7 linked regions of the Homo sapiens genome follow. The protein of the gene in region 6 purifies or fractionates together with the protein of the main gene of each other region. This does not show direct contact. Each region holds a gene or a part of one and is shown on either strand. Other genes may lie near its edges.

What was found.
Region 1: the proteins of WAPL (region 6) and ZSWIM9 purify together in Homo sapiens (affinity purification with mass spectrometry; one large-scale study listed by BioGRID and IntAct). This does not show direct contact.
Region 2: the proteins of WAPL (region 6) and HTR1E purify together in Homo sapiens (co-immunoprecipitation; one large-scale study listed by IntAct). This does not show direct contact.
Region 3: the proteins of WAPL (region 6) and USP13 purify together in Homo sapiens (affinity purification with mass spectrometry; 2 studies listed by BioGRID, with this or other methods). This does not show direct contact.
Region 4: the proteins of WAPL (region 6) and PWP2 purify together in Homo sapiens (affinity purification with mass spectrometry, with the first as the bait; one large-scale study listed by BioGRID). This does not show direct contact.
Region 5: the proteins of WAPL (region 6) and RIC3 purify together in Homo sapiens (co-immunoprecipitation; one large-scale study listed by IntAct). This does not show direct contact.
Region 7: the proteins of WAPL (region 6) and UPF3A purify together in Homo sapiens (affinity purification with mass spectrometry; one large-scale study listed by BioGRID and IntAct). This does not show direct contact.

Annotation. Positions count from the first base shown.
Region 1 is NC_000019.10:48,183,863-48,188,047, reverse strand, and holds part of ZSWIM9 (uncharacterized protein ZSWIM9), read right to left. Parts: intron 1-4,185.
Region 2 is NC_000006.12:86,943,761-86,947,945, reverse strand, and holds part of HTR1E (5-hydroxytryptamine receptor 1E), read right to left. Parts: intron 1-4,185. UniProt on the Homo sapiens protein: G-protein coupled receptor for 5-hydroxytryptamine (serotonin). Also functions as a receptor for various alkaloids and psychoactive substances.
Region 3 is NC_000003.12:179,785,540-179,789,724, reverse strand, and holds the end of USP13 (ubiquitin carboxyl-terminal hydrolase 13), read right to left. Parts: 3' UTR 324-4,185; downstream 1-323. UniProt on the Homo sapiens protein: Deubiquitinase that mediates deubiquitination of target proteins such as BECN1, MITF, SKP2 and USP10 and is involved in various processes such as autophagy, endoplasmic reticulum-associated degradation (ERAD), cell cycle progression or DNA damage response.
Region 4 is NC_000021.9:44,120,343-44,124,527, reverse strand, and holds part of PWP2 (periodic tryptophan protein 2 homolog), read right to left. Parts: intron 4,181-4,185; coding exon 4,032-4,180; intron 3,898-4,031; coding exon 3,750-3,897; intron 3,577-3,749; coding exon 3,426-3,576; intron 2,352-3,425; coding exon 2,171-2,351; intron 1-2,170. UniProt on the Homo sapiens protein: Part of the small subunit (SSU) processome, first precursor of the small eukaryotic ribosomal subunit.
Region 5 is NC_000011.10:8,140,976-8,145,160, forward strand, and holds part of RIC3 (protein RIC-3 isoform a precursor), read right to left. Parts: intron 1-4,185. UniProt on the Homo sapiens protein: Molecular chaperone which facilitates proper subunit assembly and surface trafficking of alpha-7 (CHRNA7) and alpha-8 (CHRNA8) nicotinic acetylcholine receptors.
Region 6 is NC_000010.11:86,514,838-86,519,022, forward strand, and holds part of WAPL (wings apart-like protein homolog), read right to left. Parts: intron 3,255-4,185; 5' UTR 3,233-3,254; coding exon 2,734-3,232; intron 1-2,733. UniProt on the Homo sapiens protein: Regulator of sister chromatid cohesion in mitosis which negatively regulates cohesin association with chromatin. Involved in both sister chromatid cohesion during interphase and sister-chromatid resolution during early stages of mitosis.
Region 7 is NC_000013.11:114,298,067-114,302,251, reverse strand, and holds part of UPF3A (regulator of nonsense transcripts 3A), read right to left. Parts: intron 3,413-4,185; coding exon 3,252-3,412; intron 522-3,251; coding exon 227-521; exon of another isoform or gene 201-226; intron 1-200. UniProt on the Homo sapiens protein: Involved in nonsense-mediated decay (NMD) of mRNAs containing premature stop codons by associating with the nuclear exon junction complex (EJC) and serving as link between the EJC core and NMD machinery.

The sequences.
Region 1 (4,185 bases), on a different chromosome or scaffold from region 6:
AGACTGATTGTTGCTTGACCTAGGCTTGGGATGAAAATTTAAAGCTTGCTGTCTGTCTGTCTATCTATCTATCTATCTATCTATCTATCTATCTATCTATCTATCTATTTAAAGGGTCTCACTCTGTTGTCAAGGCTGGAGTACAGTGGTGTGATCATAGCTTACTGCAGCCTGAAGCTCCTGGGCTCAAGCAACCCTCGTGCCTCAGCCTCTTGAGTAGCTGGGACTACAGATGCATGCCACCATGCCTAATTTTTTTTTTTTTAATTTTTTGTAGAGACAGGTGCTCGTTATGTTGGCCAGGCTGGTCTTGAACTCCTGGGCTCAAGTGATCCTCTCGCTTCGGCCTCCCAAAGTGCTGAGATTACAGGTGTGAGCCATCGCACCTATTATATTATCAATATTACATGTTATGCGTTACATATTATAATATTAATATAATATATAATATTATATTATATAATATATAATATATATAATATTATATATAATATATATAATATAATATAATAATAATATAATATATAATATATATAATATAATATAATATATTATAATATAATATATAATATATATAATATATATAATTAATATATAATATATAATATATATAATATAATATAATATATAATTATAATATATAATTAATATAATATATTAATTATTACATTATACTGTTATATTACTACTGTATTATTAACATAATAATATAGAACTCTTTCATTAGATTTTATAAGTGAAAAAAAGGTGAAATTTCTGTGTAAAAGTGATGGATTGAACACCTCTCTAGTTTCACTCTCTCTTGAACCTCAATTACATCTTTTTTTTAAAATGGCTTTTTTTTTTTTTTAAATCAGAGGCAATATGATAGGGACAGAACTTTGGAAACTGGAAAGCAGCTGGACATGCTAATCCCACCCCACCCCTAAAAACCCATGAATCCTAAGCCAGCAATTGAGGGATGCTGAGAACCGGTAGCAAAGTCCTCAAAAGGAGCTGGCAACACCAGGCCAGTTTTGCAGAAGGCAAAATAAAGACGAACTGAGGGCTGTTTCAGCAGCAGCTAGACCTCCAAATCTCGTTTCCCCTCTCCCCTTACTCTTCCCCCACCCCCAGTGACTGGGGGTTTATTCTGTAGACAGGGTGAAACAGAAAGGGGCCGCTGGCTTTGGGGACATCTGGCCCATCTGAAGATGAGGGAGGGGGATTCTGAACCCCAAGTGGGTACTGAGTGCGTCTTGCTGGCTGAATGCCTGACAGCTCCCTGCCTCTGCCCCTGCAGCTCCCAGAAGCTGGCAGCCTGGCCCTGGCAGCCTGGCCTTCACCCCCCGCCAGGAGGCCAGAGGAGTTTTCTCAGGGGGATTTGACCAGCCCCAGAGGAAGAACGAAAGATGGTGACATCTGGCACTCCCCAACGTATAAAGCAAGATGCAAAACAGCATGTACAGGCCGGGTGTGGTGGCCCCGACCTGTAATCCCAGCACTTCAGGAGGCCAAGGTGAGTGGATCACTTGAGGTCAGGAGTTTGAGACCAGCTTGGCCAACATGGTGAAACCTCGTCTCTACTAAAAATACAAAAATTAGCCAGGCATGGTGGTGCATGCCTATAGTCCCAGTTACTCAGGAGGCTGAGGCAGGAGAATCACTTGAGCCCAGGAGGTGGAGGTTATAGTGAGCCAACAGCGTGCCACTGCACTCCAGCCTGGGTGACAGGAGTGAAACCCTGTCTCAAAGAACAAACAAACAAACAAACAAAAACAGCGTGTACACTAGGCTGCCCTGCTTGCTGGGGGTGGGGGGTGGCGGGGCAGAAAGAGGAAATAAAGTTAAAAATTAAAGTTAAACATACAGACATGCAAATTGACCTGTATATGTGCAGAGCTGCGCTGTCCAATCCAGAAGCCACTAGCTACATTAGGTTGTTTACATTTCGATAAATTAAATGACAAATTCAGTTCCTCAGTCATACTGGCCTCATTAAGCATTCTGTAGCCATGTGTGGCCAGTGGCCTCTGGATTGGACAGTACAGATAAGAACCATTTTCTTTCTTTTTATTTTTTTAGACAAGAGTGTCACTCTGTTACCTAGGCCAGAGTACAGTGGCATAATCTCAGCTCACTGCAACCTCTGCCTCCTGGGTTCAAGCGATTCTTGTGCCTCAGCCTCCCGAGTAGCTGAGATTACAGGCACCTGCCACCATGCCTGGCTAATTTTGAATTTTTAGTAGAGATCAGGTTTTGCCATGTTGGCCATGCTGGTCTCGAACTCCTGCCATCAGGTGATCCATCTGCCTCAGAGTCCCAAAGTGCTGGGATTACAGGTGTGAGTAACCATGCCTAGCCTGGATAAGGAACATTTCTATCATTGTAGAAAGTTCCACCGGGCAGTGCTGGTCCATAGGATAGAAAGCGAGATATGATTTATAAGCTGCTAATAACTCTGCAGGGGAGGGGACCTGGGGGACAGGATGTGATAAGACTTTTCACCACATACCTTTTTTAGAACCATGTGAATGTATGACATATTCAAAAAGTAAATATTTAAATGTTGCTTCACTAATCTGTCTCTCCTGTCCTAGAACTTCTTCCTCCTTTCTTTCAAGAGCATTAAGGGGCTGGGCACGGTGGCTCATGCCTGTAATCCCAGCACTTTGGGAGGCCAAGGCGGGGGGATCACCTGAGGTCAGGAGTTCAAGACCAGCCTGACCAACATGGAGAAACCCCGTCTCTTCTAAAAACACAAAAATTAGCATGGTGGCGCATGCCTGTAATCCCAGCTACTCAGGAGGCTGAGGCAGGAGAATCGTTTGAACCCGGGAGGCGGAGGTTGCGGTGAGCCAAGATTCCGCCATTGCACTCCAGCCTGGGTGACAAGAGCGAAACTCCGTCTCAAAAAAAAAAAAAAAAAAAGTATGAAAGCAGGTCAAAACACAGACGCAGGAGCCAACCGTGGTTTAGCCGAGATTCCAAGACAGCCTTCAAAATGAAAAGACAACTCCCCTTCCAGGGAAGGCTCTGATCTATGAATGAGCTGTTCTGCACAGGGACAATCCTGCAGAGGGTGGGTTCAGGGAAGAACAGCTGAGGCTTATTTATGTCATGGTGGGTAGTGGAGGAGAGTTACTAGATCAGCAAAGACCAGTGGAGTAGGAAGTGCATGTGTGTTTGTCCCCATGGTGAAGGTCATGGGTCTGGATCCAGGCTGTGTGGGTCCGAAGCCCAGCTCTGTCACTAAATAGCTGTGTGACTTTGAGCCAGTTACTTGACTTCTCTGTGCTTCAGTTTCCTTGTCTGTAAAATGGGGATGAGAATGGTGGACTATTTCCTCATAGGGCTCAGGTGAGATGAAAATGAGTTATAGTATGTAAAGCACTTAGGGTAGTGCCTGGCATATAGTAAGTGCTTGATAAACATTAGCTAAAATTATTATTATGTCGGGACAGAGGCCTGGGCTTGGGCTGGTGGCTTGAATCAGGGCTTCTTACTGGGCATGAGATGAAGACAGGAAGAGTGTGCCAGAGCTGAATCTCGACTTTACCCTGCCTTGGGACCTCTTCCACACACAAGGGAGACAAAGGCACAGCCAGGAGGAGAAACCAGTTCTTCCCCTACTTTCTCATCTTTCTTTCCTCTTTAAACTTCAAGTTCACCCCAAACTTGAAGTTGGATTAAAGCCGCAGAGATTCCTTATGGAGCAGCAGCCATCCTCACTGTTCCTCCAACACAAGCTTGCTCGTGCCTCTGGGCCTTTGCACTGGCTGTTCCTTCTGCCTAGAATTCTCTTCCCTCTGATGACAGAATGAGGGTCCCTTGCCTCTGTTCCATCTCCTCTGCTTCACCATCATTTGCTAAAGAGACCTTCCCTGACCAATTCAAACAGCACCCTTAGAACTGTCCCGCTCCAGGCCCCGGCCTTTTTCTCCTTGATGATAACTTATCGCTCCATCACATTACAGGACATAGCACTCTTCCTTCTCCTAATTCTCCATCTGCATGGTGGGTTCAGGTGTGTTCTCCCCTTGAGAACATTCATCAAACTAAGTATTTATCATTTGTGCATTTTCTGTTTGTGCAGTTCAATTAAAAAAAAAAAAATTTAAGTAGGCCTGGCGTGGTGGCTCATGCCTGTAATCCCAGCACTTTGGGAGGCCGAAGCAGGACTGCTTCAGTCTGGGAGTTCAAGAC
Region 2 (4,185 bases), on a different chromosome or scaffold from region 6:
GGCACATGTACACCTATGTAACAAACCTGCACATTCTGCGTATGTATCACCAAACTTAAAGTAAAATTTTTTAAAAAAAGGAAAAGAAACTACTTCACAATTGTTGGAATTGATTTAAAAAATCTGAATTCAATTATTAACTATATTTCTTACAGTTCATCCAAATTCCACTTTGGATATAGTCAATATTTACTAATTTATGTTGTTGAATCAATAAATGGAAATATCATTTAAAAAATAATGTTAATTAGAGAAAGCAGAACACAAGAAAAGTATATAACATACTCCTGATTTCATTGAAAAAGAAACCACTCTTTTCTCCCTATAGAGAGGGAAAGCACTAAGGCAGAAATTCATCAAAGTATCAATAGTGGCTGCCTCTTGGTGGTGGCAATAAGAGTAACTTTAACTACATTTTTTATACTTTTCTGCATTTCCAAATTTTCTACAATGAACATGTGATATACTTATAAGCAGGAAAAAAAATCCCTTAAAGTGGTTGAGTGGAGGAGTTTGAACTTTACTTGTTTTGTATCTGCCAAATTTATGCCAATTTACAGTGAGAGAAGAAATGTAGATAACACAAGAATCAAACAAAAAGAACTCTTTGAGATAACCAAGAGTTGGTTTTATTTGCCTACTTCAAAAGGTTGTTTTGTGAGTTCTTAAGTAACTATAAATATTTATACAGGTGTTGCTACAATGCCAGAAAATTAAAATAATGAGGATAATTATTTATATTACAAAATATTAATGATATCACAAGATCACATAAGCATTGTACAATTCCACTAGATACATGGAAACCTTCTCTGTGCATTTTTTTTTTGAGACAGAGTTTCGCTCTTGTTGCCCAGGCTGGAGTGCAATGGCGCGATCTCGGCTCACCACAACCTCCGCCTCCTGGGTTCAAGCGATTCTCCTGCCTCAGCTTCCTGAGTAGCTGGGATTACAGCCATGTGCCACCACGCATGGCTAATTTTGTATTTTTAGTAGAGACAGGGTTTCTTCATGTTGGTCAGGCTGGTCTCAAACTCCTGACCTCAGGTGATCCGCCTGTCTTGGCTTCCCAAAGTACTGGGATTACAGGTGTGAGCCACCGTGCCCGGCCTCTGTGCATTTTAATTATGGTTCAGTTTCTAAAAATTCTGTTTGCAAGCCACTTTTCAGGGCAGCATATCTAATGTGTTCAGCAAGATAAGATTAAACCATATAAAGTTATTGTAAAACTTGGGGTAGCTGGATTTGATACATACACTTAAAACACAACTGACAAAAATCATATCTAGTTACTTCAGTTGTCCTCAAAGGACCATGGAGTAGAAGCTGAAACATATAGTCATCTTCATCATTGTCATTATGACCATCATCTCATTTTTTTAGATTTCAGCATAATTTTATATATAGCCATGCATCATACATTCTGAGAAATGCATTGTTAGGCCATTTCATCATTGTGTGAACATCAAGATGTGTACTTCCACAAACCTAGATGGTGTAGCCTACTGCACACCTAGGCTATGTGGCATAGCCTATTGCTTCTAGGCTACAAAGCCAGACAGCATGTTACTGTATTGAATACTGTAGGCAAATGTAACACAATAGTATTTGTGTATCTAAACGTAGAAAGGGTACAGTGAAAATATGGTATAAAGATAAAAAATGGGATACTTGTGTAGGGAACTTATCATGAATGGAGTTTGCAGGATTAGAAGCTGCTCTGGGTGAGTCAGTGAGTCAGTGTTGAGCGAATATGAAGGCCTAGTACATTACTGTACACTACTGTAGACTTTAAAAACACTGTACACTTAAGCTATACCTAATTTGTAAAAACCATTTTTTCTCTCTCCAATAATAAGTTAACCTTATCTTACTATAACTTTTTTACTTTATAAACTTTTTAATTAGGCCGGGTGTGGTGGCTCATGCCTGTAATACCAGCACTTTGGGAGGCCGAGGCAGGTAAACCACCTGAGGTCAGGAGATTGAGACCAGCCTGGCCAACATAGTGAATCCCCATCTCTACTAAAAATACAAAATTTAGCTGGGCATGGTGGCACATGCCTGTAATCCCAGTTACTTGGGAGGCTGAGGCAGGAGAATTGCTTGAAACTGGGGAGGCGGACGTTGCAGTGAACTGGGATCACCACGCCACTGCACTCCAGTCTGGGAGGCAAGAAAGAAACGTCATCTCAAAAAAACAAAAACAAAAACAAAAACAAAACAAAAAACCCCCAAACTTTTAAATTAAAAAAACCTTTTTGACTCTTTTTGTAATAGCACTTAGCTTAAAACACATTGTATAGCTATACAAAAATATTCTCATTATTTATAACATTATTTTATAAACTTTTTTCTATTTTTAAAACTTTAAATTTTTTCTTTCCTTTTCACACTTTTTTGTTAAAAACTAAGATACTCACGCCTGTAATCCCAGCACTTTGGGAGGCTGAGGCGGGCGAATCATTTGAGGTCGGGGGTTCAAGACCAGCATGGCCAATATGGTGAAATCCCGTCTCTACTAAAAATTCAAAAAATTAGCTGGGCATGGTGGTGAGTGCCTGTAATCCCAGCTACTAGGAAGCTGAGGTGGGAGAATTGCTTGAACCTGGGAGGCGGAGGTTGCAATGAGGTGAGATTGTGCTGCTGCACTCCAGCCTGGGCGACTGAGACTCTGTCTCAAACAAACAAACAAACAAACAAACAAAACTAAGATACAGACACATTAGCCTTAGCCTACACAGGCTCAGGATTATCAGTATCACTGTATCTATTTACACATCCTGTCCGTTGGAAGGTCCTTCGGGGCAATAACATGCATGGAGCTGTCATCTCCTGTAATAACAATGCTGTTTTCTGGGATACCTTCTGAAGGACCTGCCTGAGGCTGTTTTACAGTTAAACTTCTTTTCACTTTTTTTTTTTAATTAAGTAGGAACACACCCCAAAATAATGATAAAAAGTATAGTACAGTAAATGTATAAACCAGTAACAGTTGTTTATTATCAAGTATTATATACTATACATAATTGTATGTGCTATACTTTTATACAACTGGCAGCACAGGTTTGCTTACACCAGCCTCATCACAAGCACATGAGCGATACATTGTGCTACAACAACATTGCAATAGCGATGATGTCACTAGGCTGTAGGAATTTTTCAGCTCCATTATAATTTGTGGGACCACTGTCATATATGTGGTTTGTGGGTGACCAAAATATTGTCAATGTGCTGCATGGCTGTCTATTATCTATTTTATCCTGGTAAGTCTGTTATTATCATCACTTTCATGAGAGAACTAAGGTATGAAACAAATAAATGGCTTTTCCAAGGTCACACACACAGCAAGGTGTAAAATTCACATCTCTTAATCATTGATTTGCTGTTCTTATATCACTATCTATAAAGTGGAACTGGATTCTCAGCATTAATAAAACTAATAAAATCTTGATATTGTATAGAGCTTTATATTTTACAAATTCTTTGACAGATTATCTAATTTCAGTCTGAGAACATTACTATGAGATAAAACCACGAGGTGATACTGAATTGAGTCTTTATCAAACAGCTTCTGATGTCTTATATTGTGGCAGGCAGTATCTCAGGTGGCTCTCAATGATTTGGTTCCTGTAGGTATTCCTCCCACTGTGTAATCCCTTCCCCTTGAATTAGGCTGAAACTAGTGACTTGTCTCTAATGAGGAACACAGCAGAAGCCATGGGATATCACTTCTGATATCAGGTTACAAAAAGACCTTGGCTTCTATTTTGCTATCTTTCAATCTTAGCCCTTGCTCCAAGGACAGCAAGCTGCAACATCTGCATGAAGCACTCTGTTTTGTTAGTAGCCCTATAGAGAGGTCCATGTGGTAGCAAAAGAACGTCTCCAGCCAGCAGCCAGCTGGGACCTGAGGCTTGTCAACAGCCACGTGAGCGAGCTTGGAAGCGTTACCTTTCCCCAGTTGAGCCTTGAGATGTCTGCAGTCTCGGCTGAAACTTTGCAGCCTGTGAGTGACAGACCTGAGCCAGAGGACCTAGCTAAGCCATACCCAGATTCCCAACCCATGGAACTATGATCATAGAGATAATAAAAATCTGTTGCTTTAAGCCATTAGGTTTTGGGGTAATTTATTATTTAGCAATAATGAATACACACATTTAATCCTCATAAATAGCCCTATGA
Region 3 (4,185 bases), on a different chromosome or scaffold from region 6:
ATATGTGTTAAGGGGGCTGTCAGCAAACCAAGATCTAGGGAACAAGAGAAAGATCTGTGACATGACATCCAGCAGATAAAGTCCAAGGCAGGAGACTCCGCCCTGCCCCAAATCCTCCCTCCTCCACAGAGGTAACAATGTGCCACCACTGATGGTCCACTGTGATGGCTGCCTGGTAACGCCAAGAACCCCTAAAAAGAAATAAGATTAGTCATTGTCTCAAGTTACCTGTTCCACTGACAGATGAAAACAATCAATGGCAGAATCCGTTTACTTGGCATTTTTCAAAATTAAAGAAAAAAAGAGCCATAAAGGGCCTCAGATTGTGAGAATAGCTTTTAATTTAAAACAATTGAAGCAATAAATCATCCATCTCTCTTTCCATCTCAGGCAAATAATCTCCCAAAACATTTGATACAGTTTAACAACAACTGTGACTAGTGCAAAATAAAATAAATACAAACTCTTTCAGGAGCCAACATCAAAACCTGCTGGACAGGTGGGCACAGGAACAGACTCAGCCTCTGCCAAGGCTGAGACAAGCGGCACATCAAGAGTGGCAGGATTTGTGCAGTGTTTCAACACACCCAGCTTTGAACAGACTCAACAATACCTGGGGAGGGGAAACCACAAGAGGATTTTGCCTACAATGAAACAAATATGCCCAACACCCTCAAGTGGCTAATATCCTTGGTACCTAGAAGATGCTAGAAGAGCAAAGGTAGCAGCTCCCAGGCAAAGCTGAAGACAGGCAGTTTGGGGCTCATTTGCTTTTGTCTTTTAATTGGGATCATACATATATATATTGGTTTTTCGGCAGAAAAAAAAAATCTGCTTTCTGGGAGATGTTCTGTGCCTCACAGTGCTCCTGACTCCAGCAAAAATATTTGTGTTGTTTCTGTCTATTTAGATACTTTGCAGAATTGCGTTTCCTATTTACGGATTTCACTGCCTACCCCACACCATGTAAGTCTAGAGTGGGGCTGTCCAATAGAAGTATAACGTTATCCACATGTCTAATTTGAAGTTCTTTAGGGGCCACATTTTTAAAAAAATAAAAATGGGTGAAAAGAATTTTAATTTCAATTATATAAATATATTAAATTGTTAATATTTTACTTAGTACATCCAAAATAGTGTCATTTCAGCATGTTATCAATATGAAATATTGGTGAAATATTTTAAATTCCTTTTTGGTACCAAGCCTTCAAAATCTGGTGTGTATTGTATGTGTACAACACAGTCTCGATTTGAACAAGCCAAACTTTGAGTAGTCATCGCCACATATGGCTGTTGACTGCCACATTGAATAGCACAGGTCTACCGAGTCTTATGCAAACTCTTTTAGAGTGATTTATGGAGTGGAAAATCTCTGTAACACTGTGCAGGTGATCTCAGACACCAACTCAAGAGTACAGAACCTTGTTCTATAGCGTAGGATTTCTTTTATCTAAAGGACATTATCACACTTTATCTAATCCCATCCCCTGGTCCTGCCCCTGCCCCCTGCCATCTCCCCACAGAAGGCATGTACTGATGTGATTTAGCAGCAGTGATGCCTACAAGATGACAAGGACGGCCTTTCTGTGGTAGACAATTTTGTCAGCACTTATTTGGGGATCACAGCTCTAGCTAAATTAGAATTTTGTTTCCCATCCTCTTCCAGAATTTCAAAATATTCTATAAAGGTGACAGATGTAGTTGAAGGCAGTTCTGAGGCTTTTCTAGGAGGACACTTTAAATGGATTTTTTGTTTTGTTTTTGAGGGGGATGGAGCCAAAGTACCTCATGGACTAGAAAGTTGTTTTTTTCAAGAGTAGAAAAAAAGTGGGGCTGGACGCGGTAGCTCATGCGTGTAATCCCAGCACTTTGGGAGGCTGAGGCAGGTTGAGGTCAAGAGTTCAAGACCAGCCTGGCCAACATGGCAAAACCCTGTCTCTACTAAAAATACAAAAATTAGCTGGGCGTAGTGGCGTGCGCCAGTAATCCCAGCTACTTGGGAAGCTGAGGCAGGAGAATCACTTGAACCCGGGAGGAGGCTGCAGTGAGCTGAGATTGCACCACTGTACTCCAGCCTTGGCAACACAGCGAGACTCCATCTCAAGAAAAAAAAAAAGTGGGATGATTACCCAAAAAAGTATAGATAAGTGGAGCAGGAATACAAACAGAGGGGTCGTGGGGCCACTAAGAATGACACAGGTCCTCAACTGGGGAGTATAAGCTGTAACAATGCAAAAATATAACATCCAAACCTCTAAGTGATCCCTCACATTTTACGTGTCAGACCCTAGTGGTAACCACAGGAAAATAAAAATAAAATGTTAGGGCAAGAGAGGACTTTGGAGCTAATCTAGTCTAACCCACTTGTTTCAAATGAAAAGGCCCAGAGAGGTACAGTGATTCAGTCCCACCTCACTTAGAGTGGAGTCAGGATACAGACCCAGGTGCTCTCACTATGAATTGCAGGTAAGGCTCTGTTCAGGTAAAGGGAATAAATGACTCAGGGAGCAAGAGGCTCGAGCTATCCCCGCTGGACTTCCTATAGCCCAAAGTAAGCACTGGGAAATGTCAGGCACATTCTCTTGCAGGTAGGAGAAAGCAGCCTGGTCAATTCCAAAATATTGAAGCAACGTTGATGTAAAGTGTCACTAACACATGATTCTTCCAATAGTCTTTTCTGCATACTTTTTTTTTCTTTAAAAGAAAATCCCAATCTGAACCAAACTGGATTTCTGATTAGTTATATGGGCATTTAGATCAATTGGCAAAATAAAAACTTTGATACATTACCTTTTCCAAAGACATATTCATTGGAATTCTACATAAATGGATATCAAAAGATATTTACAGGAAGAAAGTGCTGTCTTTCACACAGACACCCATATACAGGGAGAATTTCACAATTAGACCACCATGCCTCACATAGAGGACTGCTAACAGACTGATAATGAGTTGACAAAATCCACACGTTATTCCACTTTTCAGTCACAAATAATCGTGTCTACACAAGTGTAAAATTAAGCAGTACATTCCAGACTTTTATAGGGGAACCTGCCTTGTATATATTGAGATACACATATAAATATGCTTTTAAGCAAGTAAGAAACCCATTATTTACTCCAGTTTTTCCCAACTCTCAATCTGAAGTAAAGAATAGCACATATACAAAACTTTGCCTTGTAGAAATAGCCCTTTGTGTTGTGGGGCAGAAGAAAAGGCAGCCATAGCACAATTTTTTTACAACATGTCTAGGCATCAAAAGGGCTAGTTAATGAAATCAAACAATTTATAGCCTATAGTCTTAAATATTGATTTTACATCACTGATTTTTAAAAGTTTTATTACAAAATTTTTATTTTATTCAAAATACACATGCTATCTTTGTCCACATTTCAATCCAAACCACCCAGTCACCCCCAATTCCAAAAAACAGGCCTTTGTTTTATAACATCGCTGAAAACAAGCCATTTTTGACGTGGGTTTGGAGTCATTATTCTATGACACTCACTCTGCCCTAAGGGGACTGGATTTTGTAAGGCTGCTTACTGTGGGGATGTCCACGGGAGTCAGTGACTCTCATAACAGAGTGGGACTGCTTTAGGAAATCCAAGTTAACATTAGGAGGTGACACCAGTGGGCACACTTTGGTAGAAAAGTACTGCACCGTGAGCTCCCTCCTTCTGCCAATCTCATTTGTTCCCAAATTGAGGAAAACAGAGGAGAAAAGGCAGGGAGCACCATCTACTACAACCCACCATGGCATACCACATTCTACTCATTGAAGGTTCACTGTAACCAATCTCACTGTATCCTCAAAGCATGATTGAAAGAGAGGGCAGGTGTCATCATACCATTGTTCAGATGAGGACAGTGAGGCACAGGACGGATGAAGGACTTGCCCAAGGTCCACAGTCAGCTAGGAGCAGCACCCAGGTCTCCAGGCCATGGGCCTTAGACACCATGTCTCTCGGTCACATGGCACCAAAGGATCACCTATGAGACAGGGACCCCCATCACACCCAGAATCCTGATTGTTCACAACTCACTACATCCTAACCCAATGTCTGTGCTTTGTTTCACCTGGTTGGTTCTGTTTATTTTCCTACAGTTTCTAAAAAGATCCTTTCAACCAAACAAATACATGTTAAACAGACAGCAATAAATTCTTTTTCGTTTGACCAAATA
Region 4 (4,185 bases), on a different chromosome or scaffold from region 6:
TATGGCTCCTAAAAACCAACTTTAGGCCTGCATGGTGGCTCCCGCCTGTTATCTCAGCACTTTGGGAGGCTGAGTTGGGAAGATTGCTTGAGTCCAGGAGTTCAAGACAAGCTTGGACAATATACCAAGACCCTGTTTCTACAAAAAATAAAATTAACAGGGTGCGGTGGCACATGCCTGTAGTCCCAGCTACTCAGGAGGCTGATGTGGGAGGATCACTTGAGCCCAGGGGTTGGAGGCTGCAGTGAGCCATGATTGCACTCCTGTACTCTAGCCTGGGTGACAAGAGCGAGACCGTGTCAAAAATCAAAAATAAAAATAAAAATAAAAATAAATAAAATAAAAACTAACCTTAGGAAATAGAGGAGATCCTATACCAGCCCTCCAGGAAGCAAACACCAGCCTCAGCAACTTTCGCCAAGGCTCGCTGCCTCAACTCACGCGAGACTTTTAAAACCCACAATGTCCAATGGTGCCATCACCTGGTTCCGCTCTGAGCCAGCACCACCCTTAGATGCTTCCGCTTCCTGAGAATCAATGTCTTTTTCACAAAAGGAACAAGTGGCTCAAGGAACAGTGTTCCCTGCTGAGGTCAGCACAAAACGGCGACCAGTCGGCCTCCACCCTAAGCAGCCTACTCTCAGTCACGTCTGCTTAGTCCTGCAGAAACCAGAAACCAGCCCTTACCACCCCGCTCAACAGACGCCTCGGGGTGGGCAAGGTCCCTTAGTTATGACAGTAGAGAACAAAGAACAACAGAAAAAATGAGCAAAGTGGACATCATCAGAACTAAGAGTGCCACCAAAACGGTGGAAAGACAGTTCACAAAGCGGAACAAATATCTGCACATCAGGTATCAGAGAAACCCCTAAAATCCACAACCAAAATCCAAACAACCCAATTCAAAAACAGGCAAGAGACCTGAACAGACACTTCTCCAAAGAAGACTTACAAACGGCCAAGCCGCAGACAGAAAATGCTGAATGTCACTAGAGAAACCACAATCACAACTACAATGAGATACGAATTCACATCCACCCCAACAGCTCTCATTAAAAAAATAATAATAATAAAGCAACAAGTGCTGGCGAGGAGGTGGAGAAGCCAGAAGCCGACAGCGTTCCTCGTGGGAATGGCAACCGTGCAGCTCCTCCAAGCTGGAAACAGAACCACCAGCACCCAGCAGTTCCACACTCAGGGCGAACCCATGAGGACTGCACACAGGCATTCATACCACTTCCAAGACAGGGTCGCTACTTCTTTCTGGAGGAAGACCTTCTGCTGAACAGGTTCTGAGCTCCTGGGACACAGGTCCAGCCCCCAAGGCCACCCACCCCGGGCACATCCCACAGATCCTCCCCCTTCTCCTAAGCCTGACCCCCACCCAGTTGAGCCTCACAGCCCAGCCAGGACCCCGCGCAGGCAATTTGGTCAGTGCTGTGCTGGCCCGACTCCTTGAGACAAGGGGACACTATGTCTTCACCATCCACGTAGCACTCTCTAGTCAAGTGAGGTGACTGAGGACCTGCATTTTTACTCTTAGGAGGCTGCCAGGGCTGTTTTCTGCTTTTGTTTGTTTTGTTTTTGAGACAGGGTCTTGCTCTAGCACCCAGGCTGGAGTGCAATGGCATGACGCCATCCTCACTACAGCCTTGACCTCCCGGGTTCAAGCGATCCTCCTGCCTCAGCTTCCCGACTAGCTAGGACCACAGACATGTGCCACCACACCTGGCTAATTTTTCTACTTTTTGTAGAGATGGCATTTTGCCACGTAGCCCAGGCTGGTCTCAAACTTCTGGGCTCAAGCAAACCACCCGCCTCAGCCTCCCCAAGTGCCAGGTCTCCAGTGTGAGCTCGGGCACCCGGCTGCTCTCCCCTCTGCACACCAGGACGATGTCATAATTCAGGATCAAGGTTTGGAAGTGGATGCAAGCTCTCAGCTGAACAAGTTTATGTTCAGTAAATCCAGACGTCCTCCTGTGCTGGGGGCTGTGCGATCCCAGGAGTTAAGGAGGACATGGACTCTCCCCAGAGGGCTCAGGACCACCTGCCTCCACCCACAGGGACTCAGCGGTCTCAGGAACAAAGAACAAGGCCAAAAATGGAGAAGCTGCAGGAGCCTGGTGGCTGGCTGGGGTCTCAAATCAGGAGGCCCGATGCTGACACTCACTTCCCCTTGGCCGCGTGCTTGGCTGTAATCTTGTCCAGCTCCTTCCTGCCAGTCTTGAGGTCATGCCTGCCCTCAATGGAGCCCGTCTGCACCGCGTTCTCAGGGTCCCAGAAGGTGATCTGTGAGTTCAGTGTGGCCACAGCCAGCTCCGCACCATCAGGGCGAAAAGTCACAGCCAGAGCTAAACAGAGATGCAAAGTAAGGCCCAACGAAGACCCCAGTCTCCCGCAGGCAGGCCACCAACCACCCTTGGCTGGAGACCAGGCCGTGCCCTGGCACCCCTAAGAGACCAGCGCCTGTTTGGTCTGGTACACAAGAATCTCCTCCCAGGAGAAGCTCCAACCCAGACAGGTGAGGAACAACTCAGCGCCAGTGAAGAGCACCAGGCGGTCCAGCTGGGGCCACAGGACCCACAAAGGCCGATGGAGGGGGCGCTGGGAAGGTGAGGCTGATGGGTGAGTGATGGTGGTTACTGAGGGCGGCTGGACAGACTAGAATACAGAGCCTCTGCAAAGAAGCCACATGTGATGCCAAAAGCCTGGCCAATGCCAGGCCTGGGGGTGGGGTGAGGCAGCGGGAAGCAGAGAGAACCAGCCTCCTGGGATGGCAGAGTCTGTCCACACCCGGACATGGATGGGCTGGGTCTTTGTGAGCCACGTGGTCTTTCAACACCGCCGCTGAGGCATTGACAGCCACAGACCATATGAACACAGGAGGCCACGGCTGCCTCTAGTACAGCCCCGTCAGAAAGACAGGCAGTGGCCTGAGGCCAGTCTGCAGATCCCTGGGCAGCCGCATCTGGCTTCCGGGCCCACCTATGGCCCCCTCATCCTTCTCCCAGTCTGCAGATTCCGGGACTGGCCGCATCCAGCGTCTGGGCCCCCCATGGTCCCTGTGTCCTTCTCCCAGTGACACAGCCCTGGCAGAGCTCCAAAGCAACTCCGAAAATCAGGAAGCAGCTGCGGCAGCAGCCCTTCACCCTCGGGGAGCTGTTCTCTCCTGCCTGGCGTACTTGCCCACAGAGCGGGAGCCCCACAAGGACTTGTGGAAGCCACGCTGGCCTGACTCGCCAATCTGCTGTCTCCTAGGTACTGCCAACCTCAAGGGCTGCCACACCAGCAGGTCTGGATAAAAGCCACCCCCTGCTTCCCACCAGAAGGTTCACACCAAACCCACAACGAGGAACAGGGCAGTGGGTGTGACAGCATGCTGCTGGTCCCCAGGCCGCTGCTCCTGCCTGCTGCCTCGTGCTCACCATCAGAGGTCAGGGCCAGCGTCTCCTTGGTCCTCCAGCTGTCAAACATGTCCCATAGGCGCACTGTCTTGTCCCAGGAGGCACTGGCCAGGACGGACTTCATTGGGTTAAAACACAGACCACTGATGGGCCCTTCGTGTCCAGACAAAACCTACCGTAGAGCAAGGAGGCGTGAAGAGTGGAGGTGGCGGCCGAGGCGGCTCTCTGGGCAGCTCTGGGCCAGGGGCATGGGCCCTCGGAGTGTAACCTCAGCTCCCTGCGCTCCTCTCCCAGGAGACAGGAGGGCCCCTCCTGAGCCCCAGCCCAGCCCCTCAGGGTGCTTACATCAAGGAGCCTGCCTGTCTGCATGGACCACACGAAAATCTCAAAGGAGTCCTGCGCCCCTGCAGAGACGATCTCACCGCTCGCATCCACCGCCACACAGGAGAACTGGGTGGGGCGTGGAGAGGTGAAGGTGCGGAAGTTTCGGTACCTGCAGAGAAGAGGCAAGGTCAGAGTCACGTGCCAGGGTCCCCTGCCCCAGCAGCTGCACTGCAGCCTCACCCTCCACCTTCACCTCTGCGTGGGGGAAGCCTGCCCCAAGCCAATCCGGAGCAAAAACATCACCTGTGAAGGTCAAAGGCTCGCACGGTCCCGTCCATGGATGAGGTCACCACAACGTAGCCGGTGGCAGTAAAGGTCACACCGGTCACCCCGCTGGAGTGCTCCGTAAAAGTGACGAAGCAGAAGCCGCTGAGGGTGTTCCACACCTTGACCTGAG
Region 5 (4,185 bases), on a different chromosome or scaffold from region 6:
AATGCTGAGAGATTTTGTCACCACCAGGCCTGCCCTAAAAGAGCTCCTGAAGGAAGCGCTAAACATGGAAAGGAACAACCGGTACCAGCCGCTGCAAAATCATGCCAAAATGTAAAGACCATCGAGACTAGGAAGAAACTGCATCAACTAACGAGCAAAATCACCAGCTAACATCATAATGACAGGATCAAATTCACACATAACAATACTAACTTTAAATGTAAATGGACTAAATGCTCCAATTAAAATACACAGACTGGCAAATTGGATAAAGTCAAGACCCAACAGTGTGCTGTATTCAGGAAACCCATCTCACGTGCAGAGACACACATAGGCTCAAAATAAAAGGATGGAGGAAGATCTACCAAGCAAATGGAAAATAAAAAAAGGCAGGGGTTGCAGTCCTAGTTTCTGATAAAACAGACTTTAAACCAACAAGATCAAAAGAGACAAAGAAGGCCATTACATAATGGTAAAGGATCAATTCAACAAGAGGAGCTAACTATCCTAAATATATATGCACCCAATACAGGAGCACCCAGATTCATAAAGCAAGTCCTGAGTGACCTACAAAGAGACTTAGACTCCCACACATTAATAATGGGAGACTTTAACACCCCACTGTCAACATTAGACAGATCAACGAGACAGAAAGTCAACAAGGATACCCAGGAATTGAACTCAGCTCTGCACCAAGTGGACCTAATAGACACCTACAGAACTCTCCACCCCAAATCAACAGAATATACATTTTTTTCAGCACCACACCACAACTATTCCAAAATTGACCACATACTTGGAAGTAAAGCTCTCCTCAGCAAATGTAAAAGAACAGAGATTATAACAAACTCTCTCAGACCACAGTGCAATCAAACTAGAACTCAGGATTAAGAATCTCACTCAAAACCGCTCAACTACATGGAAACTGAACAACCTGCTCCTGAATGACTACTGGATACATAACGAAACGAAGGCAGAAATAAAGATGTTCTTTGAAACCAACGAGAACAAAGACACAACATACCAGAATCTCTGGGACGCATTCAAAGCAGTGTGTAGAGGGAAATTTATAGCACTAAATGCCCACAGGAGAAAGCAGGAAAGATCCAAAATTGACACCCTAACATCACAATTAAAAGAACTAGAAAAGCAAGAGCAAACACATTCAAAAGCTAGCAGAAGGCAAGAAATAACTAAAATCAGAGCAGAACTGAAGGAAATAGAGACACAAAAAACCCTTCAAAAAATTAATGAATCCAGGAGCTGGTTTTTTGAAAGGATCAACAAAATTGATAGACCGCTAGCAACACTAATAAAGAAAAAAAGAGAGAAGAATCAAATAGACACAATAAAAAATGATAAAGGGGATATCACCACCTATCCCACAGAAATACAAACTACCATCAGAGAATACTACAAACACCTCTACGCAAAAAAACTAGAAAATCTAGAAGAAATGGATAAATTCCTCAACACATACACTCTCCCAAGACTAAACCAGGAAGAAGTTGAATCTCTGAATAGACCAGTAACAGGAGCTGAAATTGTGGCAATAATCAATAGTTTACCAACCAAAAAGAGTCCAGGACCAGATGGATTCACAGCCGAATTCTATCAGAGGTACAAGGAGGAACTGGTACCATTCCTTCTGAAACTACTCCAATCAATAGAAAAAGAGGGAATCCTCCCTAACTCATTTTATGAGGCCAGCATCATTCTGATACCAAAGCCGGGCAGAGACACAACCAAAAAAGAGAATTTTAGACCAATATCCTTGATGAACATTGATGCAAAAATCCTCAATAAAATACTGGCAAAACGAATCCAGCAGCACATCAAAAAGCTTATCCACCATGATCAAGTGGGCTTCATCCCTGGGATGCAAGGCTGGTTCAATATACGCAAATCAATAAATGTAATCCAGCATATAAACAGAGCCAAAGACAAAAACCACAGGATTATCTCAATAGATGCAGAAAAAGCCTTTGACAAAATTCAACAACCCTTCATGCTAAAAACTCTCAATAAATTAGGTATTGATGGGACGTATTTCAAAATAATAAGATCTATCTATGACAAACCCATAGCCAATATCATACTGAATGGGCAAAAACTGGAAGCATTCCCTTTGAAAACTGGCACAAGACAGGGATGCCCTCTCTCACCACTCCTATTCAACATAGTGTTGGAAGTTCTGGCCAGGGCAATTAGGCAGGAGAAGGAAATAAAGGGTATTCAATTAGGAAAAGAGGAAGTCAAATTGTCTCTGTTTGCAGACGACATGACTGTATATCTAGAAAACCCCATTGTCTCAGCCCAAAATCTCCTTAAGCTGATAAGCAACTTCAGCAAAGTCTCAGGATACAAAATCAATGTACAAAAATCACAAGCATTCTTATACACCAATAACAGACAAACAGAGAGTCAAATCATGAGTGAACTCCCATTCACAATTGCTTCAAAGAGAATAAAATACCTAGGAATCCAACTTACAAGGGATGTGAAGGACCTCTTCAAGGAGAACTACAAACCACTGCTCAAGGAAATAAAAGAGGATACAAACAAACGGAAGAACATTCCATGCTCATGGGTAGGAAGAATCAGTATCGTGAAAATGGCCATACTGCCCAAGGTAATTTACAGATTCAATGCCATCCCCATAAAGCTACCAATGACTTTCTTCACAGAATTGGAAAAAACTACTTTAAAGTTCATATGGAACCAAAAAAGAGCCCGCATCGCCAAGGCAATCCTAAGCCAAAAGAACAAAGCTGGAGGCATCATGCTACCTGACTTCAAACTATACTACAAGGCTACAGTAACCAAAACAGCATGGTACTGGTACCAAAACAGAGATATAGATCAATGGAACAGAACAGAGCCCTCAGAAATAACGCCGCATATCTACAACGATCAGACCTTTGACAAACCTGAGAAAAACAAGCAATGGGGAAAGGATTCCCTATTTAATAAATGGTGCTGGGATAACTGGCTAGCCATATGTAGAAAGCTGAAACTGGATCCCTTCCTTACACCTTATACAAAAATCAATTCAAGATGGATTAAAGCCTTAAACCTTAGACCTAAAACCATAAAAACCCTAGAAGAAAACCTAGGCATTACCATTCAGGACACAGGCATGGGCAAGGACTTCATGTCCAGAACACCAAAAGCGATGGCAACAAAAGACAAAATTGTCAAATGGGATCTAATGAAACTAAAGAGCTTCTGCACAGCAAAAGAAACTACCATCAGAGTGAACAGGCAACCTACAAAATGGGAGAAAATTTTCGCAACCTACTCATCTGACAAAGGGCTAATATCCAGAATCTACGATGAACTCAAACAAATTTACAAGAAAAAAACAAACAACCCCATCAAAAAGTGGGTGAAGGACATGAACAGACACTTCTCAAAAGAAGACATTTATGCAGCCAAAAAACACATGAAAAAATGCTCATCATCACTGGCCATCAGAGAAATGCAAATCAAAACCACAATGAGATACCATCTCACACCAGTTAGAATGGCAATCATTAAAAAGTCAGGAAACAACAGGTGCTGGAGAGGATGTGGAGAAATAGGAACACTTTTACACTGTTGGTGGGACTGTAAACTAGTTCAACCATTGTGGAAGTCAGTGTGGTGATTCCTCAGGGATCTAGAACTAGAAATACCATTTGACCTAGCCATCCCATTACTGGGTATATACCCAAAGGACTATAAATTATGCTGCTATAAAGACACATGCACACGTATGTTTATTGCGGCATTATTCACAATAGCAAAGACTTGGAACCAACCCAAATGTCCAACAATGATAGACTAGATTAAGAAAATGTGGCACATATATACCATGGAATACTATGCAGCCATAAAAAATGAAGAGTTCATGTCCTTTGTAGGGACATGGATGAAATTGGAAATCATCATTCTCAGTAAACTATCGCAAGAACAAAAAACCAAACACCGCATATTCTCACTCATAGGTGGGAATTGAACAATGAGATCACATGGACACAGGAAGGGGAATATCACACTCTGGGGACTGTGGTGGGGTGGGGGGAGGGGGGAGGGATAGCATTGGGAGATATACCTAATGCTAGATGACGAGTTAGTGGGTGCAGCGCACCAGCATGGCACATGTATACATATGTAACTAACCTGCACAATGTGCACATGTAC
Region 6 (4,185 bases):
GCCCCATTCCTCAAAAGACCATACACTTAAGGAAGATGGAGTCAGCCCTGAGCACTTTCACCACTTGCACAGTTTAATCTTACTTCCTCCGGCCCACCCACCCCACACTGTAGATTATCTGAAAACATCAAGAAATGTCAGGCTGGGCACAGTGGCTCACGCCTATATTCCCAGCACTTGGGGAGGCCAAGGCGGGTGGATCACATGAGGTCAGGAGTTCTAGACCAGCCGGGCCAACATGGTGAAACGCCGTCTCTACTAAAAATACAAAAATTAGCAGGGCATGGTGGCAGGTGCCTAAAATCCCAGCTACTCGGGGGGACTGGGGCAGGAGAATTGCTTGAACCCGAGAGGCGGAGGTTGCAGTGAGCCAAGATAGCGCCATCGCACTCCAGCCTGGGGGGACAAGAGCGAGACTTCATCTCAAAAAAAAAAAAGAAAAAAAAGAAATGTCAGTTGGAACAACAAACACAAGCAGAATAGCATTCGCAGAGCCTTGTACAGTGGTTTGACGGACAGTAGGTGCTCAATATGTTGATAATAAACGAATCTCATTCCAGTTCTGCCACTAGCTGACCTTGGACAGTCATTTAACCTCTTTGAGCTTCTTATATAAAATGAGAGCTGAGTTAAAATTCATTTTAGTTCAAAAAAAGTTTGATGGGCCAGAAGCGATGGCTCACGCTTGCAATCCCAGCACTTTGGGAGGCCTAGATAGGCAGATCACTTGAGGTCAGGAGTTTGAGACTAGCCTGGCCAACACGGTGAAAACCTGTCCCTACAAAAATACAAAAATTACCTGGGCATGATGGCAGGTGCCTATAATCCCAGCTACTGGGGAGGCTGAGGTGGGAGAATCACTTGAATCCGGGAAGCGGAGGTTGCAGTGAGGCAAGACTGCGCCACTGTACTACAGCCTGGGCAACACAGCGAGACTGTGTCTCAAAAAAAAAAGTTTGATGATTTTAATATACATTTATACATTTTTAGGAGCTGACCTGGAAACAGTTTTTATGCTGTCTATGCCTTTTTTTTTTTTTTTTTTTGAGATGGCATCTTGCTTTGTTGCCCAGGCTGGAGTGCAGTGGTGCGATCTCGGCTCACTGCAACCTCTGTCTCCTGGGTTCAAGTGATTCTCCTGCCTCAACCTCCGTAGTAGGTGGGATTTAGAGGCACCCGCCACCATGCCCAGCTAATTTTTTGTATTTTTAATAGAGATGGGGTTTCACCATGTTGGCCAGGCTGGTCTTGAACTCCTGACCTCAGGTGATCCAACTGCCTTGGCCTCCCAAAGTGCTGGGATTACAGGCATGAGCCACTGCACAGGTCCTTTACGCTGTTTTTTAATGGAAATTTAACCTAAACTTAACTTGTCAACAACGCCTGAGGAGAAATGTGGGCAAAGCAGGAAGGACAGCCAAATTAGAATTAACCCTGAGGATCAAGGGAATGACAATAACAGCTGGCTCATCGTCTCATCCAAGAGTGAGAAAAAGAGTGAAAAAATGCTCAACATTTTTAGTAAAACTATGCAAGGCCCAGTACATTGTACTGTTTCACATACCTTAACCTTCAAAGGACAAATTTGCCTTAAGAATTCAGTACAGCCAAGTTTTGTCTGTGTTTACTTCCTTTCAAAATAGGAGATTTTTATAACCTCTCATTATTGCTAAACTTTGCCAAGACGTCAAGAACTAAGGTTTCTTTTCAATTACAGTATACTGCCACCCTTATCCTAATGCTGATAGAGTGCTCCCACTTCTCCACCCCACCTCTTCCCTGCCACCCTCAATATTAGCTCTTCAGTCTTTTAATTAATTGCACCTTTTTCACTTATTATAAATCTCAAATCCCTTACAGAAGACAGAACAAAATATATCGTTTTAGGAGAGAATACTAGATGCTATATTTACAAATTAACATTTTTAAAATACAACCAGTTTTGTGGTTTAAAATCTATCAACACAGCCGGGCACGGTGGCTCATGCCTGTAATCCCAGCACTTTGGGAGGTGAGGCGGGCAGATCACGAGGTCAGGAGATGGAGACCATCCTGGCTAACACAGTGAAACCCTGTCTCTACTAAAAATACAAAAATTAGCCAGGCGTGGTGGCGGGCGCCTGTAGTCCCAGCTACTCGGGAGGCTGAGGCAGGAAAATGGCATGAACCTGGGAGGCGGAGCCAGCATGGGCGACAGCGAGACTCCTTCTCAAAAAAAAAAATCTATCAATACAAGTTGATACTGGCCCCAAACTAATCTCAATTTGGAATCAAGTTCAATTCTTTAAATGTCTCCACTCAATACCCCCTTAATCTTTCTGAACTAGTTTTGGCAGAGAGTCTACCATTGGTAACTAATCCTCATTTTAAATACTCATCTCATTTTCATTATCAATAACCATCCAAATCCTCCACAGTAATAGAAATGAGATACTTTGTGATCCTAACACAACAAAAAGAGATATTTCTTATTGGAATTGGGGTTATAAACTTATGACTGTTCCCAAAACGTACCCTGCGCAACAGTCTATAAATGTTAACATCCAAGTTGTTTATTTCAACCTCCAACTGGTTTCTTTAAAGTTCTTAAATGTCTTTTACAAAACTATCAATGGTCCCCATGTATCATAAGTGCAGAAAGAAAACACAATATATATTTTAGAATTTAAATCATTTAAATAAATTGGTTGCACAAAGCTCTCTTGGCGGAGAATAAAGAAAATCAAAACTTACCTGAAGTTATTAATTTATTACAGCTACTTATGCTTGCATCATCTTCTACAATTCGGTTTGTGCTCTTTTCTTTCCCAAGTAAAGTGTCCTCCAAAGGGAAGCATTTATCAGAAACGACAGTGTCTTCAACGACCACATGACTAATTTTGCTATTAGCTTCAAGTACTGAAGTGACCTCTTCCAACTGAGCAGCTTCACTAGATTCTGAATAAGAGGAACACTTAACCTGGGCTAAATTCTTTGAAGAAACTGGTAGAGACTCATCATCACTATCAAATCCAAAAGGATCTCCAGTACTTTCTTCTTCCACTTTAGGTTTCTTCGGAATTTCTTGGATATCTGGTTTGAAATTGGGCCTCTTCTGCCCTAATTTAGCCATAAATGTGGTCTCTCCCCATTTTGTGCTAAGGGTAGTCCGTTTGTTGGAAAAGACTTCATCGAATTTTGAACTGCCATTTCCACCTTTCCTACTGTATGTTTTCCCAAATCTGGATGTCATTTTGACACCAGTTTCATATTCTCTGTGAAAAAAAATTTAAGAAAACATATAATCATCAAATACAAGTGTTAAACAGTGCATATAAAAATAAAAACCTAGGGATTCTTCCCTCATGACTTTTGACACTCACCACACAGACTTTTAAATAAACAAATATGAGGAAGGGGTATAAAGAAAGGCTGATTTATTACCCTACATGCTTCCATGTCAATTTTCCTCCACAATGAGTACATATTCCTACGCTACTTACAAAGTAAAAAAACTTAATGATTAACCAACTTATAATACGATATCCATAAAGCTAACTTAAAATGAAGCATATTAAGTTCCAAATGAATTAATTTACTATTCTTATAAACATCATTTTTACCTTAAAAAATTATCTGTATAGAGGCTGGGAGGCCGAGGCAGGCAGCTCACTTGAGGCCAGGAGTTTGAGACCAGCCTGCCCAACACGGTGAAACCCCATCTCTACTAAAAATACAAAAATTAGCTGGGAGTGGTGGCACGCACCTGTAATCCCAGCTACTTGAGAAGCTGGAGCAGAAGAACCGCTTGAACTCAGGAGATGGAGGTTGCAGTGATATAATGATAACCTGTATAGGGTAATTACTTATATAAAATCTTAAGCACAGAATGTTAGTTTTTTTCAGGGCCTCAGAAATATCCAATACTTGATTAAATTTAGTTCTTTGAAATTTCATGGCACTAATTCACATGAGAAAAAAGGTCCCCAAAATGGTGCTTTTTCTCATGTTTTACAACCTGCAGCTTTTAACCCAATCTTGAAGATTCTGCTTCTTGGTGTAATGTAATTTGCGCTGTGACTTTAAAAATGTTCCTTAGATGGTCATCTCCCTAGGGAAAGAAACTATCCTTATCCTATCTGCCTTGTCCCGATAGTGCTGTGCTCATTTGCTGAGTTATATTTTCTGGGGCTAGTGAGCTCCAGC
Region 7 (4,185 bases), on a different chromosome or scaffold from region 6:
ACTAAATAAAATCTTTCTTTTTCCTGGTGAAAAATAATTTGATTATCTGAGAAAAGATGATGACTAGTCTCACTCTGGGATCTGACTTTCAGGAAAAACTGCTCTTGAAAATGCTCAAAGCACTGCGTTCCCCAAGACACAAGGCCAAGTGGGGGTGACATGGTCAGCATGCAGCCTGGACCTTAAGACAGCCAGACACATTTTTCTTTTTGGGTTTAATAAAAACCTTGTTTGCCAGTCGCTCTTTTCTGGGTGCTGGACTGTCGTCACACCTCTGCGCTCTTCCCAGTCTCTCCATGGCCTCCCCCGGAGCCCCGCTGTCCTGGCTCCCCTTCTTCCCTCTGTCTTGGCCAGGTCCTTTCCCCCATCTCTGCTCATCCTCACTCCTTCTGGAAAGCCGTTCAGGCTCGTGGTGAGCTCTGTGCCTCCTGCCGTCATCCACATGGTATCTTTGTGCTTCAGATTCTTGTTCTTGAGATCTCTCCACATCCCTGTGCTCTTTATCACTGCCGCTGTGTGACCTATGATTCAACACAAATGATCAGCAACTGCAGTAAACCGCCGGTTGGCTGCCCACCCTCCTTTCTAGACCACAGGTTCCCAGACAACAGGGACCCATGCGAAGTGCTCAGCGCTGCACTGCTGAGGCTGCACTGCGATGGGCACACAGCAGGCGTTGATAAAAACCACTACAAAGAGGAATAAATCATAGTAATAGTATCTGTCATTTCAGTTGAGTGACAGATAGGCAATATGCCTTATACTAAGGTACTTTTTTTTTTTTTTTCTGAGATGGAGTCTCGCTCTGTTGCCCAGGCTGGAGTAAAATGGCGGGATCTCAGCTCACTGAAAGCTCCGCCTCCTGGGTTCACACCATCCTCCTGCCTCAGCCTCCCGAGTAGCTGGGACTACAGGTGCCCGCGACCACGCCCGGCTAATTTTTTGTGTATTTTTAGTAGAGACGGGGTTTCACTGTGTTAGTTAGGATGGTCTCGATCTCCTGACCTTATGATATGCCCATCTTGGCCTCCCAAAGTGCTGGGATTACAGGTGTGAGCCACCGTGCCTGGCCATGCTAAGGTACTTTTTATACATATTTTCTAATTCTCAATAACCCTCCAAAGTAAATACCTTCTTTTGACCAGGCATGGTGTCTCACGCCTGTAAATCCCAGCACTTTGGGACGCCAAGGTGGGTGGGATCACCTGAGGCCAGGAGTTGGAGACCAGCCTGGTCAACATGGTGAAGCCCCCTCTCTACTGAAAATACAAAAATTAGCCAGGTGTGGTGGCATGTGCCTGTAATCCCAGCACTCTGGGACGCCAGGGGCAGGCAGATCATTTGAGGTCAGGAGATTGAGAGCAGCCTGGCCAACATGATGAAATCCTGTCTCTACTACAAATACAAAAATTAGGCCAGGCACAGCGGCTCACACCTGTAATCCCAGCACTTTGGGAGACCAAGGCAGGCAGATCTCCTAAAATCAGGAGTTCGAGACCAGCCTGACCAACATGGAGAAACCCTGTCTCTACTTAAAATACAAAATTAGCCAGGCATGGAGGGGCATGCCTGTAATTCCAGCTACTCAGGAGGCTGAGGCAGGAGAATTGCACGAACCCAGGAGGCAGAGGTTGTGGTGAGCTGAGATCGCACCATTGCACTCCAACCTGGGCAAGAGGAAAACTCCGTTTCAAAAAAACAAAAAAAAAACAAAAATTAGCCAGGCATGGTGGCGGGTGCCTGTAATCCCAGCTACTTGGGAGGCTGAAGCAGAATTGCTTAAACCTGGGAGGCGGAGGTTGCAGTGAGCCGAGATCGTGCCACTGCACTCCAGCCTGGGCGACAGGGCGAGACTTTGTCTCAAAAATAAAATTAAAATAAAATAAAATAATAAAACAAAATAAAATAAACCTTCTTTTCTACAGATAAAATGACTGAGACTAAAGTGGTCCAGTGGCTGTCCTGGGAGCCCAGGTGCACATCCATCATGATGTGCAGAGTAAAATTAACTGACATTTAATAATGGCAGATTAATTATCTTTATGCATTTATCAGAATATTAAATGAATAGTAAATAAATGGCTGCTTCGCTCATTTGCCAGGGCTGTTGGGGACCATAAGGATCTGTAACCAAGTATGAATTCACAGCAGACACGTGGCAGTAGGTCCTGCTGTGTCATCAACTGTCACAGTAACAACACCGGTAACATCATCACAGTGCTTCACAATCATGGATTTGATAATCATATATAAATTTTATAAACAAAGCAATAAACCAAAACTCCCAAGAAGTAGAAAAAATACTTCATCAACTCTGAACGAAAGGCAGTGAGAAATCACACCTACGACTATGGCTCTGGGAAGCCGGCAGCCTAATCGCATTAGTCTTCCCACCTAAAATCCACGTCCATCATCCCCTGTGGGCCAAGTGGCCCTGGGCACCAGGAGACTGTGGGTGGCGAGAGGCAGTGAGTGGGCAGGAGTCCCGGAGGGGAAGGTAAGCCCAGGTGCCTGGGGCCCTGAGGATGGTGGATGCCAGGAGCAAGAGGGACAGGATCCCTCCTGACTGGCATCTGGCTGGTCTCTCTGGCCCACCGGGCAGATAATGCTGTGTCTGTCCCTTTCGCAGATGAGCTCCCTCCATAGAGCTGCACTGTCATATGCAGCAAAGGAAAAGAAAAAGGGAGGACCCACAGTGCACAGCCAAAGCTGCTGGTCAAGATCCACAGCCAGAGGAGCCAGGGACAGCTTCAACCAAAGGATCACAGCACTTAAAATTCTGTTTCTCTATCACAAAAGATCTGCCAGACCTAAAAGAGGGGGTTCCCAAATATGCAATTCTGTAGATAAATTGCAAGGGGGATAAAAGAGCAAAGGGCAAGATATCACAAACACAGAGAAAAATAAAAAACAAAAAACAAAAAGAAAGACTGGGAAGACAGATCCTGAAGACCTGACATGCAACAGCAGGAATCCAGGAGGCGGCTCAGGAGTAAAAGGAGGACATGGAGGCAAAAGCAAAGCAAACAACAGGAAGAAACTCCCGATCTGAAGACAGACTTGAGACTGCAGACAAGACGAGTTCACTACGTTCCTGCCATGCTGATGGGAAATGAAGGCTAACGTGTACTCGCACACCCTGGAAAGTCTTGGATTCCAAGAACAGTGTGAAATAGGCATACTCATACTGACAAAGCCTACGTCACCATGACTGGGAGCTGACGTGGTCATAACAATGAAAGCACGCTCACGTCTCCTGGGGCTCCTCCAGCGAGCCTTCCATGGGCCTGGCTTTTACGACTGCACCGGGGGCACAGGATTCCTGCTTGCCACCTCCAGTATCAATCTCCTCTCCTCTTTCTTTTGGTTTCTCTGTGGTTGGTTCCTCTCCCTTTTCTGGTTTCTTAAGAAGCTGAGAAATTACAATGTTAGTAAAGTATCACCTTGAGAGCATATTTTAAAAGAAGCTGTTAAATAAATAATTACAAATATACCCCAATATTGAAGCCAAATGTTTGCACAGCAAAGAATTAAAGCTAAAGGTCCAAAAATGAGGTTTTTGGTTTAATACGTGGTGGAACATTCAGTGAATGAAATATTTTTTAGTCATGAAAAGTAAGGTAGGTTAATGTGATGCAAAGATGTTCACGTAATGAATAAAGGGCTAAAAAACAGAACATGCACCACAATCTCACTTACACTTTTCTCTTTTGAGACAGAGTCTCGCTCTGTCGCCCAGGCTGAAGTGCCGTGGCGCACTCCCGGCTCACTGCAGCCTCCGCCTCCAAGGTTCAAGTGATTCTCCTGCCTCCACCTCCTGAGTAGCTGGGACGACAGGCATGCGCCACCATACCCGTCTAATTTTTTTTTTTTTTTTTGAGATGGAGTTTCACTCTTGTTGCCCAGGCTGGAGTGCAATGGCACGATCTTGGCTCACTGCAACCTCCTCCTCCCGGGTTCAAGTGATTCTCCTGTCTCAGCCTCCCAAGTAGCTGGGATTACAGGCGCCCACCACCACGCTCAGCTAATTTTTTGTATTTTTAGTAGAGACGGGGTTTCAGTATGTCGGCCAGGCTGATCTCAAACCCCTGACCTCAGGCAATCCACCCACCCTGGCCTCCCAAAGTGCTGGGATTATGGGCGTGAGCCACCGTGCCCAGCCCCCACTTCTATTTATGTTCACAC